2 separate regions of the Homo sapiens genome follow, and region 2 is linked to region 1. The links come from fine-mapping of genetic effects on gene expression. A gene starts in region 1. The other region holds a variant in brackets. All regions are shown on one strand. Distances are from middle to middle. Region 1 holds the start of ZBTB33 (zinc finger and BTB domain containing 33). Region 2 overlaps TMEM255A (transmembrane protein 255A).

Region 1 (5,381 bases):
TGGGAGAGGATTAGAGAGAAAAAACAAAAGTACTTATTTAGAATTTAAGCAGTAGCATCATTAAATAGTTTATTCAAGTTTTAACCAAAGTTCAGCATAATTTTTTGGCTTTTACAGAAATTGTTCATACAGGTTGGCTTTTGGAACAAGTGTCCAATTTCATGGCTTGCTCCTGAGTTGAGCAAGTTTTACATTGTTACAGAGATTTGAACAGTAATCTCCATAGTCACCTTTTTTTGAATATTAGATACATGCACCTCCACTAAGTGATTTTTAAAGATTAGAATTAATTTTCTTAGTCCCAATTTTGGGTTTTCTCTCCAAGAAGAGGTAAGAGTTGACTTTTAACTGTCAAAATTAAGGAAAATCATCATGAACACACAGAAGTTATTTCGCCTGTAAATGATTGAAATGTCAGAAAAGCTCAGCGCGTGCAATACTGTGTCTGAAATACATACTCTTAATTTTAACTAATCTTTAAGAATATATGCAGAATCTACACCCTGGAGCCAATGACATTTATAAACACTGACAATTATTACCTCCCAACGTCCCATTATTTTTCTGTTATTTAAATTGGGGTGCCTCATCTTGATAAACTATTAAACATCTTTCTTACCCTTTCCTCTTTCTTCATCCCCTTGTCCCTTCCCCTCATCTCTCCATCTTTACAATTTCCAGAGGTGGAATGTTAAACAGTGCCAAGTGAAGTCAACAGACACTATCATGAAAAAATATGACAAAGGAAAAGGAAAGTTTACCATTTCTAAATGCCCACTTCCAAGAAAACACGAAACATTTTATTTTTGTTGGTAAAGAATCATATGCATTGGTATGAGAATTTTTTCCACACCAAATGAGTTAGTGAAAATGAAAACATTAACTTATTGGAATAGACTACTCTAGAAAAAGGGGATGATGTCAGTAGAATGCATTGTTGTGTAGCACTAGCAAAACATCATTTTTTGCACTTTGCAGAAGATATTTCCAGTAACAAAGAGGCCAGAGTTTAAAAAAACCCATATATTAAAAATATATAATATCCATACATATTATATATGGATATATTTTAATATATGGATATTATATATTAACAATTAGTTGACAAGTACTTTTAGTGAAGAAATATTTTTATTAATATTCTCTCCCTTTGAAGTTACCAAAAGGGTGTCGATGTCACAATGCTTAAGTTATATACAGGTGGAGGGCAGTTCTGTCTCAAATACCTTCTAAATTTTTCAAAATGATACCTTAAGAACAAACAGCAGGCAAAAAGTCTAAAAATCAAGATTTAAAACATTATTAGAAGGTGTTGCATGTTAACAGTACCAAGGAATTCCAGGTTACCATAAAGGCATTCATCATCAGAAAGGGTGACCTTTGGACAGTTTGCCAAAAACCAGGGCTTCCGAAATACGGGCATTTCGACAGAAGTCGATATTAAGTGGAAAGACAGGTTTTCTGAAAACGGCACGCAATTTTTGTCATTTGCTCCCGGGTTCTTCCAATATGGGAATGCGTCAAATGTACGTGTCCAGGTGACACTGGGACTCGGTTTCGTTTCGTTTATGTGTCCCCCTCCTCCCACTCAGGGTGGCCCCAGAGACAGCACAAGTCGGTCTGAACCCACTCCGAAGATATGCGATTCGACTGTGGAAAAGCCATTCCACATCACTGTGAAACCCTTGACCGAGGGCCAGTTCGGAGGAGCTGGTGACGGTGGAAAGAGATAAAAGCCATCCGCGAGGGAGTGAAACAAACCGACACGCGGCTCCCTGCGGCAGCTGAACCTCATCTCCCTTCCTCCACCTCCCTCTTCCCCATATGGACCCTGCCAGCTGCAACCGAGGTTTTTAACCCCAATTCACGTGCAAAGCAAGCTTCTTGCAAATACAGACGGAGGTACAAACAGCAGAGTGAGGGCGGGAGGAATATGGGGTACCAGGGAAAGTAGAAGGTGGCGAACGGCAGGGTGGGGTGTTGGGGGGGGGATGAAGCGAAGCAGGCGGCATTGTTGTGCCCCGGGAAGGGGACGGAAGGGGAGGATGGGCCTGGCAGAAAAGCTCTAAATCAAAGTAGGGGCTAGGGGAGTAAAAGAGGCACAAAAAAGCAGCGAGAGGGGCGAGGGAAAAGCCAAGTGGGTCTCTGTGATGGATTCCCCAAGCCCCGGGGCCTACCCAGGGCACCGGCAGCCCCTCGGCCCCTAACGGCGAAGGGGACCGCGCCGCGGCCCTCGCGGCTCGTCCCCTCCTTCGCTCCCCGGCCCACACAAAGAAAGAGCCGGAGGAGCTGAGCCTCCGACTCTGCCGCTTCCTGGTTCAAGTGAGGCGAATGCAAACGCAGGCGCGGCCCAGGGACGGAGAAGGCAAGCGCGCTCCTTCGCCCCCTCCCTGATTGGGGCCGGGTCCTCACCTGCTTCCCGGCGCCGCCGCTTCTCCTCCTCCGGACGCGCGGAAGGCTGGGAGTCCCCCAACAAGAAGAAGCCGCACTCCCCAGCGATTCTGCCCCTTCTTTAAACGTCGCTCCAGTCTGGGTCGACGTCGACGCGGCCGCCGCCTCCTGCCGCCAACGCTGCTACAGCTGCCCCACGCCGCCGACAGAGGGCACAGCGCGGGGGCGAAGCGCTGAAGCCAAAGGCGCCCTCCTCTTCCGAGCGCAGGCCGGGGTGGTCCGGAAGGGCCCGAGCTTGAGGCGGCTCCACTTCGGCGCCGTGCTCTGCCTTCGGTTCTTTCCGCAAGGGGGCGGAGGAAGACTGGGAAGCTCTTGTGTGTTCGGCTCTTTCCGGAGGGCTAACGGGTGGGAAAAAAGGAAAGGGAAAGATCGGGTAAGACAGTCGCAAGCAATTGGATGGAAGGGAAGCGAGTCGTTTTCATCGAAATTCAATGTGAACTTCTAGGGCATACAAACTTTTAGAGACTATACAGGTTTCATTTATTTTGCAAGTTTGAATCTGCTCTATTAGACTGTTTGCTAGATGATAAACCATCTTGAAATATAATCAAAATACATACAATCAAATAGAAATTCACAACTTCTTATGGTAATTCAAGTTCTGGGATAACAAGAGAGCAACTACATTACAGTAACTACTTTTAAGAAAGAAATTTAGTGTTTGGACAACTATCTTCTTAATTGAATACTAAATGGTGCAGTACTATGTTAATTCCCTCATTCCAACTAGCATTTACTGACCCCCTGCTTGATCTGTAGCAAAAACCCTATGTTAGGCTCTCGGGAATACAAAAATGAATAACCCAAAGGTCTCTACCTCTTTAGGGAGCTCAGTAGGTAGGTACACAAACATGGACAAAAATATTTGTACAAGGTGTAGAAGCAGAGAGAAGAGAATAGCAAATTGAATGCTGTCATTTGACCTGTATCTTGAAAGATTAATAATATTAACACTTGCATTTTTAATTTTTTATTGTTACTATTTTAATTTTTTATTATTACTATTTCCATAACATTTCATCTTCAGAGGGCTTTAGTGTCTGACACATAGTATGTGTTCAGTGATTGTTTAATGACCGAAAAAATACATTGTGAGTTACATAATTTTTTAAAATCCTCTGGTAATACCCTTCCAACTGAGTACCATAATAAATGAAGCAACAGGATGGGTGTTTGGAGAGCAAAATGTTTCCCTTTTAGGCTGGTTATTGATCGTATTCAACTAAGGAACCAAATAGTAACTTTTTTTCTGCCATAATTAAGGCCATTCACTACCTTCATTATCTTTTTAAAAAGATATATATAGGATAATACTGCATTCATTTCCAAAATCTTAAATTTGTACCTATTAATACCTTGCAGTGGAATTCCTGTGCTTCTTTCCTAAAAAATCTTGCTGAAAATGTCCATCAGGATATTAGACTGAAAACAGATGTAACTATATCTAATTTTCTCTGACAGGAAATCAGACATGGATGTCATCATCTCATCTACCTATCCCTAATCTATTCTTCATCCTCCTCAATAAAGTAAAGCCACATGGTATAATAAAACATCAAAGTGGTATAATATAGCTGTATTTCACATGGAAATATGCAATTCCTTAAGCTCTTCTCCAAGATTTTGTATTGTGGGAAAACAAACTATGTGGGAATTATTGCATTATTGATTTTTGATTAGGACTTAGCATTATGAAAAGTTTCATTGTTTACTATAAAGATATTTCATGGCAAATAGAAGTATGCTGTTGTAAAATAAACTAAGGCAGATTAGTATTTTTCCTGGCAACTGAGTACTTAATAACCATTTTTCTGAGTTATCCTCCCCAAAACTTAGTAGTAAAAAAAAAAATCTTAGTAATTAGAACAAAGTATATCTTGAAAGTTTAGGATCTATTTATCTTTCAGTGGCTTAATTGATGAAAACTAAAATGAGACATATCTTTGAAATACAGATCACAGTGGCAATAGATGCCACTCTAGATATCATGTTTGTTGGTCAGCTCTCAGTAAACTGGAAGGCACAATGCAATTTATTTTGTACCAGCATTTACATCACTGAGGCTGGCAACAGAATTGCCATGCCATTGTCACTTTCCTGAAAGTATTTTAAAAGTTTGGAGTACCAACTAACATATGATGAAACCTGTTCATTCAAAGCACAGTAAACCTTCTCTTCCCTTCTTGCTGTATCTCTCACCCCCTAACCAAGCAAAAACTAAACAAGTTTAAAAGCTACCTATAATGAAAGGGGGTCCAATGGTCAGGAAAGGAATTTTATTTGTAGGAAAGCAGAACAGACCAAGAAGCCTGAGTGGCCTTAATAATTGTCTTTGGGACAGGATCACTGGAAAGTTTAATTAATTTTCTGTTTCTCAACTAGTCATTTCACTTTTACTTTTGTTTTTAATCTGGAGGGCTTAACCCTACTTCAAACAACCCAGTAGTTTGAACTCTATTTCAAACAACAACAACTCACTTTGGGAGGCCGAGGTGGGAGGATCACCTGAGGTCAGAGAACAACCTATATCAAATGGATTTGGAGGTATCAATTGTTTCACATTCTAGAAAGGTTTTATTGGCTGAAAATGGGATGAGTTAGGTTTTATAGCCGTATTGTCAGCGTTTGCTTGCCTTTTGACCTTGATTGTGAATTCCATGAGGGCGGTAACTGTCCTCTCCTGTGTTAAAATGCCAACAATCTTGTGGGTGCTTAATATATATTAATTGATGACAAAAGATAAAGTGACACTCGTTCAGTCTTAGAGCACTTCCTATATGTTATGCTTATGGTTACAGATTTGGTAAGGTCACTCCATGGGATCTGCAGAAACCCTAGTAAGGTAGAGTGGAAGAAACAAAGTCTTAAGCAGAAGATGTGAGTGGGTTGGAATTCTGATACTGCCACTTCCTAGCTCTTTGATCTTATGC
Region 2 (5,381 bases), 23 kb before region 1:
TAAACATAGTCTTTTATAGCCCCACCCCACACTTTTAGTAAAATTTTTTGGGAATAGTTTTCCCCTAACAAACTTTGGGAGAGATGGAAGGAAAGGTTATTCTAGCTATAGGTAGGATTAATGCTAGTCTTCCCCTCCCCAGGTATTTCATAGTGAAGTTTCTTCAGAAAGAGCATCTGGGCTCTTTTCTGTTTGCATTCGCAGAGCCAGCTCTAGGCTAAGTTGCTTGCCAGGTCTTGCCTTCAACTTGGACCTCAACCTCAGCCTCCCCACTTTCCATTCTTCCCTTCCAAATCTTTTCTATTTGTGTGTGTGTGTCTGCAAAGGCACAGCAGGACTCAGCATTCAGTAGGTACTCCATATAGTAGGCTTCTTTTTTTCCTTTCCTTCTAAGGCATTTCTAAGCATTTATTTGTTTATTTGATAAATCTAGATCTCTAATTATGGAGATAATAGCTTTGAGTTATGGTTATCAACCTGGCTTCATATAAGAATCACCTGCCCAGCATGGTGGCTCATGCTTGTAATCTCAGCCCTTTGGGAGGCCAAGACAGGAGGATTGACTAAGCCCAGGGGTTTGAGACTAGGCTGAGCAACAGCCCCTGTCTCTATTAAGAAAAAACAACTTTTTTTAATTAGCTGGGTGTAGTGGCACATATCTGTAGTCCCAGCTACTTGGGAGGCTGAAGTGGGAGGATCACTTGAGCCCAGGAGGTTGAGGTTGCAGTAAGCCATGATTGCACCACTGCACTCCAGCCTGGGTGACAGAGTAAGACCCTGTCTCTAAAAAAAAAAAAAAAAAAAAAAAAATGCTTGGGCTCCTTCTCTAAAGATTCTGATTTAATTGGTCTAAACTGAAGCCCAGGCATCAGGTTTTGTTTTTTGGTTTTTTGGTTTTTTTTTTTTAAGCTCCCAGGTAATTCTGATCTGCAGCCATGATTGAATACCACTGCTTTAAATGAACATCCCACATCTGTTTATGGAATTATTTTGTGCCTAAGAGGGACTTTCCTTTGACCCCAGAAATTAGCTCCTAGGCCCTTGGCTGTTTCTGTCAGATTTTGGGGTCCCTGAAGAACAGAACCTGAAAGGCAGTTTGTAATTTGATCCTGGACGGTCAAAAGGATGAATGTTGGAAAGTGAAAGGTGGGGTAGGACAAGGGAAAAGAAAGAAACTCTGTCGTTTTGGATTGCAAGTCTCCAGCAGTACTGGGCTGACTGGAACTATTAAGTGTTCCTGCTAGTGACTCTAAGTCAAGAGAAATCCTTTCCTGCCCATCTGCACTCTCTCTTTCTTCTTTCTCTCCCTCTCTCATCCGCACATTTCTCTTCCCAGCTTCCCTCCCCAGACTCTGGAATGCCCAAGCACTAACAAGTAGGGGAAGCATCAACAAAGGTGGAGCCCCAGGAGGGAAAAGGATTTCCTGTAAATTTGGCCTTGAGGAAGCTTTTAGGTTAGAGAGCTGCAAAAAAAGCTGTTTCTGGGTTGGGGCTTCTTTGGAGAAAAGAATGCCCTTTGTTCTTGGAGAATTTCCCCAGGGGGCAGATGAAAGTACAGGTATTGTGTGGAATCTCAGCAGCTTTGGCTGGAAGAGAAGCTCCCAGGTTTGGCGAGTTGAGGAGATGGGACCTCAGGATGAGTGTTAAGAGTTCTCTAAATTGTCCCTAGAGCTTTCAGGCTTGGATGGCAGAGATACCTTGATGCACAAATGGAGTAGGTGGTAGCTACTTGGTAGGCTCTGTGGGGTGCCTGTAAGGCTTCCCCCTCTCCAATTTTACCCTACTGTGGGCGCTGAAACTGCCACCATGTTTTATTCCTTACTTTAAGATAAGCATTGTCCTTTTTCTCCTTGTCCACTTTCAAGATGCGTGTATTAAACAAAGGAATAGGCTAGTAGGCCACAGAGGTGTTTATACTTTGAGTTACTAGTCTCTCAGTGTGAAGGATTTGATAAGACCCTTTTCCATGGTGATGGAAAGAATTGGATTTTGAAGGCAAAGGGCATCTGAGGAAGACAGGGAGAGTGGCTAGATGGACACTTTCAAGAAATTTCTGGAAGTTGGAAAGAAGGGAGGAATAGGAAGATGATATGCTAAGGAACACAACCCTGCCAAGCTTTTAGCCTTAGCTTTAGTCCCGTTTTCCCTCACTGTCCCCCTTTAAAAAAAATTGAGGTGGAAGTCACAAACATAAAATTGATCACTTCAAAGTGTACAATTCAGTGGCATTTAGTACACTCACAATGTTGTGCAATCATCATTTCTGTCTAGTTCTAGAACTTTTTCATTACCTGAAACCTGTACCCATTAAACAATCACTCCTTGTTGCCCCTTCCCTGAGGCCCCAGCAACCCCTAATCTGCTGTCTGTCCCTATGGATTTACCTATTACAGGTATTTTCTATAAATGGAATCATGCAATATTCGAACTTCTGGGTCTGGCTCCTTTCACTTATCATATTTTTTTTGTTTTTAAAATTCATCTACCTTGTAGCATATATCAGTGCTTCATTTCTTTTTATGGCTGAATAATATTCCATTGTATGGATAGACCACGTTTTGTTTAGTTTTTTATCCATTGATATACATTTGGGTTGTTTTCATGTTTTAGCTACTGAGAATAGTGCCTTCATGAACAATCACTTACAAGTACTTGTTTGATTACCTGCTTCCAATTCTTTTTCCACCTATGGGTGGAATTGCTGGGTCATTTGGTAATTCTATGTTTAACTTTTTGAGGAGCTGCCAAACTGTTTTCCACAGCAGCTGTGTCATTTTACGTTCCTACCTGCAGTGTGTGAGGGTTCCAATTTCTCCACATCCTCACCAACACTTTCTCAAAAAAAATTATAAACATTCTAGTGGGCACAAAGTGGTATCTTGTTGTGGTTTTGATTTGTACTTCCCTGCTGACCAGTGATGTTGGGCATCTTTTTATA[T/A]GTTTGTGTGCAATTTGTATGTATATCTTCTTTGGAGAAATATCTATCAAGTTTTTGCAGATTTTTTTATTTTCCAAACAATATTCAAGATTGTTAAACAAAATTTTAAAGTATTATAAAATGTTTAATTTTCATTAGCTTTAAGGTTTATGTTACCCCCAAATTTTGTATATAACTGAAGTTTCAAATCTACTAACACTCACTGAATTGATACCACTCTGGATTCTAAGGCATCAGTTTCTTCTTACCAATTTTTCTTTGCTTCTTCTAACATTTCTTGTGTTTCATCTTGAGAATGGCTAATGAAAACATCACCAATTTGATAAGGTATCATTAAGCAGTCATCATCTGCAAGCATGATGTCATTGCAAACAACTTCTAAATTGTGGAGTTGTTTCCTTTTAACTTCTGTTTCTTCCTTCAGCTCTGTGATTCTACTCATATTCCTTGCAAATTTGTTTACCTAATGTTGATCTTCAAAAGTAGCGTTGAAATTTTCTGCAGCCTGTAAACAACAGCACTAGTAGCACCTACCTGTGGACTTGTGAGGGCTGATGTGATAACCCAGGTAAAGTGCATGTATTAGTCCATTCTCACACTGCTATAAAGAACTGCCCGGCCGGGTGCAGTGGCTCACACCTGTAATCCCAGCCCTTTAGGAGGCCGAGGTGGGCAGATCACGAGGTCAGGAGTTTGAAACTAGCCTGGCCAACATGGTGAAACGCTGTCTCTACTAAAAATACAAAAATTAGCCGGGCATGGTGGTGCATGCCTGTAATCCCAGCTACTCGGGAGGCTGAGGCAGGAGAATCACTTGAACCTGGGAGGTGGAGGTTGCAGTGAGCCGAGATCGTGCCATTGCACTCCAGCCTGGGCAATAGAGTGAGACTGCGTCTCAAAAAAAAAAAAAAAAAAATAGCCCAAGACTGGGTAATTTATAAAGAAGAGAGGTTTAATTGACTCAGCTCTGCATGACTGAGAAGGCCTCAGGAAACTTACAATCATGGCAGAAGGAGAAGCAGGCACATCTTACATGGCAACAGGTGAGAGTGCATGTGAAGGAAGCAAAGGGGGAAGAGCCCCTTATAAAAGCATCAGATCTCGTGAGAACTCATTCACTATCATCAGAACAGCAGCATGGAGGAACCACCCCCACGATTCAATCACCTCCCACCAGGTCTCTCCCTCAACACCTGGGGATTACAGGGATTACAGTTCAAGAGGAGACTTGGGTGGGGACACAAATCCAAACCGTATCAGTGCATCAAGTGCGTAAAAGCCAACCTCAGTCAATGGGACCTTCAGTTTCCCATACCCTAAGGACAAGGCCTGGGCTGCAGGGTCCTCATGCTCCCCAGAGGCACCCTCAGTACTGAGAGAGGTGCCCAGAGCCCTCCATGGATTCCGGCCTGGGGACCCCCTGCCTCAACAAGCCAGGTGACTAAGCAAATGCTCAGGGCCCTAGGTGCAGACAGGGCTCCCCACAGAGCAGCTGTAAGGGCTGGGGGCCTCAGTCTTGGGCCCCACACTGAGCTTCAGAGCTGGGCACCCCCAGCATCCCACACCCTCCACTCCCCTGCTATAGCTGAGACCTGGCCACTGACCAAGAATCCTGCCCATTTTTAAATCTGTTTTGTTGTTGTTGAGTTGTAAGAGTTCTTTATAAATAGCGGATACTAGAGCATTATCAAATATGTGATTTGCAAGTACTTCCTCCCATGCTGTGAGTTGTCTTTTCACTTTCTTGATAATGGCCTTTGAAGCACAAAAGTTTTTAATTTTGATGAAGTGTCATTTATCTATCTTTTCTTTTGTTGCTTGTGCTTTTAGTGTTATATCTAAGAATCTATTGCCAAGCTCAAGGTCATGATTTCCACATTTTTGCCTAAGAATTTTATAGTTTTAGCTGTTACATTTAGGGCTTTGAAACATTTTGATTTAATTTTTATATCTAGTATAAGTTAGGGGCTCAGTTTCATTCTTTTTCATGTGGATATCCAGTTTTCCCAGCACATCTGTTGAAGACACTGCTCTTTCCCTACTTTATGATCCTAGCAACCTTGTCAAAAATCAATTAACTGCAGATATATAGATTTGTTTCTGCGTTCTTAATTTCACTGTTATCTTTGATCTCCTGAGGAAAAAATGGGTTTGCTGATGGTCTGTCTTGATAGCGGCAATAATGGCCCCTAACCCTCTGCAAAGTGCTTTTGCACAGTTAATCTTCACTATTACTACTTTGTGAGGTAGGTATTACTGTCTCTGTTTAACAGGTGAGGAAACAGGCCAAGAGGGGTCAAGTGACTTGCCCAGAGCTGAGTAGCAGAACTGGGACTGGAGCCCAGATTTGCCAAATGCCAGAGCCTTTGCTCTTTCTATTTCATCCCAGCTGCCCCTGACTAACATTTGGGTAGCCCTTTCTGGTTCTATGAGTGTTTTAACA

The links. PIP is the estimated chance that this variant, and not a neighbour inherited with it, causes the effect.
Region 2: its variant is the best candidate, but not a certain one, in a credible set for the expression of ZBTB33 in blood mononuclear cells (TOPMed, PIP 0.68).

Annotation. Positions count from the first base shown.
Region 1 is chrX:120,248,009-120,253,389 of GRCh38, reverse strand. ZBTB33 (zinc finger and BTB domain containing 33) reads right to left here and starts at 2,578. Exons shown (of 3, transcript NM_001184742.2): 1 at 2,413-2,578; 2 at 620-721. It also overlaps a transcript of TMEM255A not described here. RefSeq lists an enhancer at 2,033-2,871.
Region 2 is chrX:120,271,214-120,276,594 of GRCh38, reverse strand. The region is part of intron 7 of TMEM255A (transmembrane protein 255A); the gene reads left to right. It also overlaps the pseudogene PFDN4P3. Among named protein-coding and RNA genes, the nearest start is that of ZBTB33, 23 kb to the right of the region's middle. RefSeq lists an enhancer at 1,138-1,815. The variant T/A (reference allele first, on the strand shown) is at 2,939.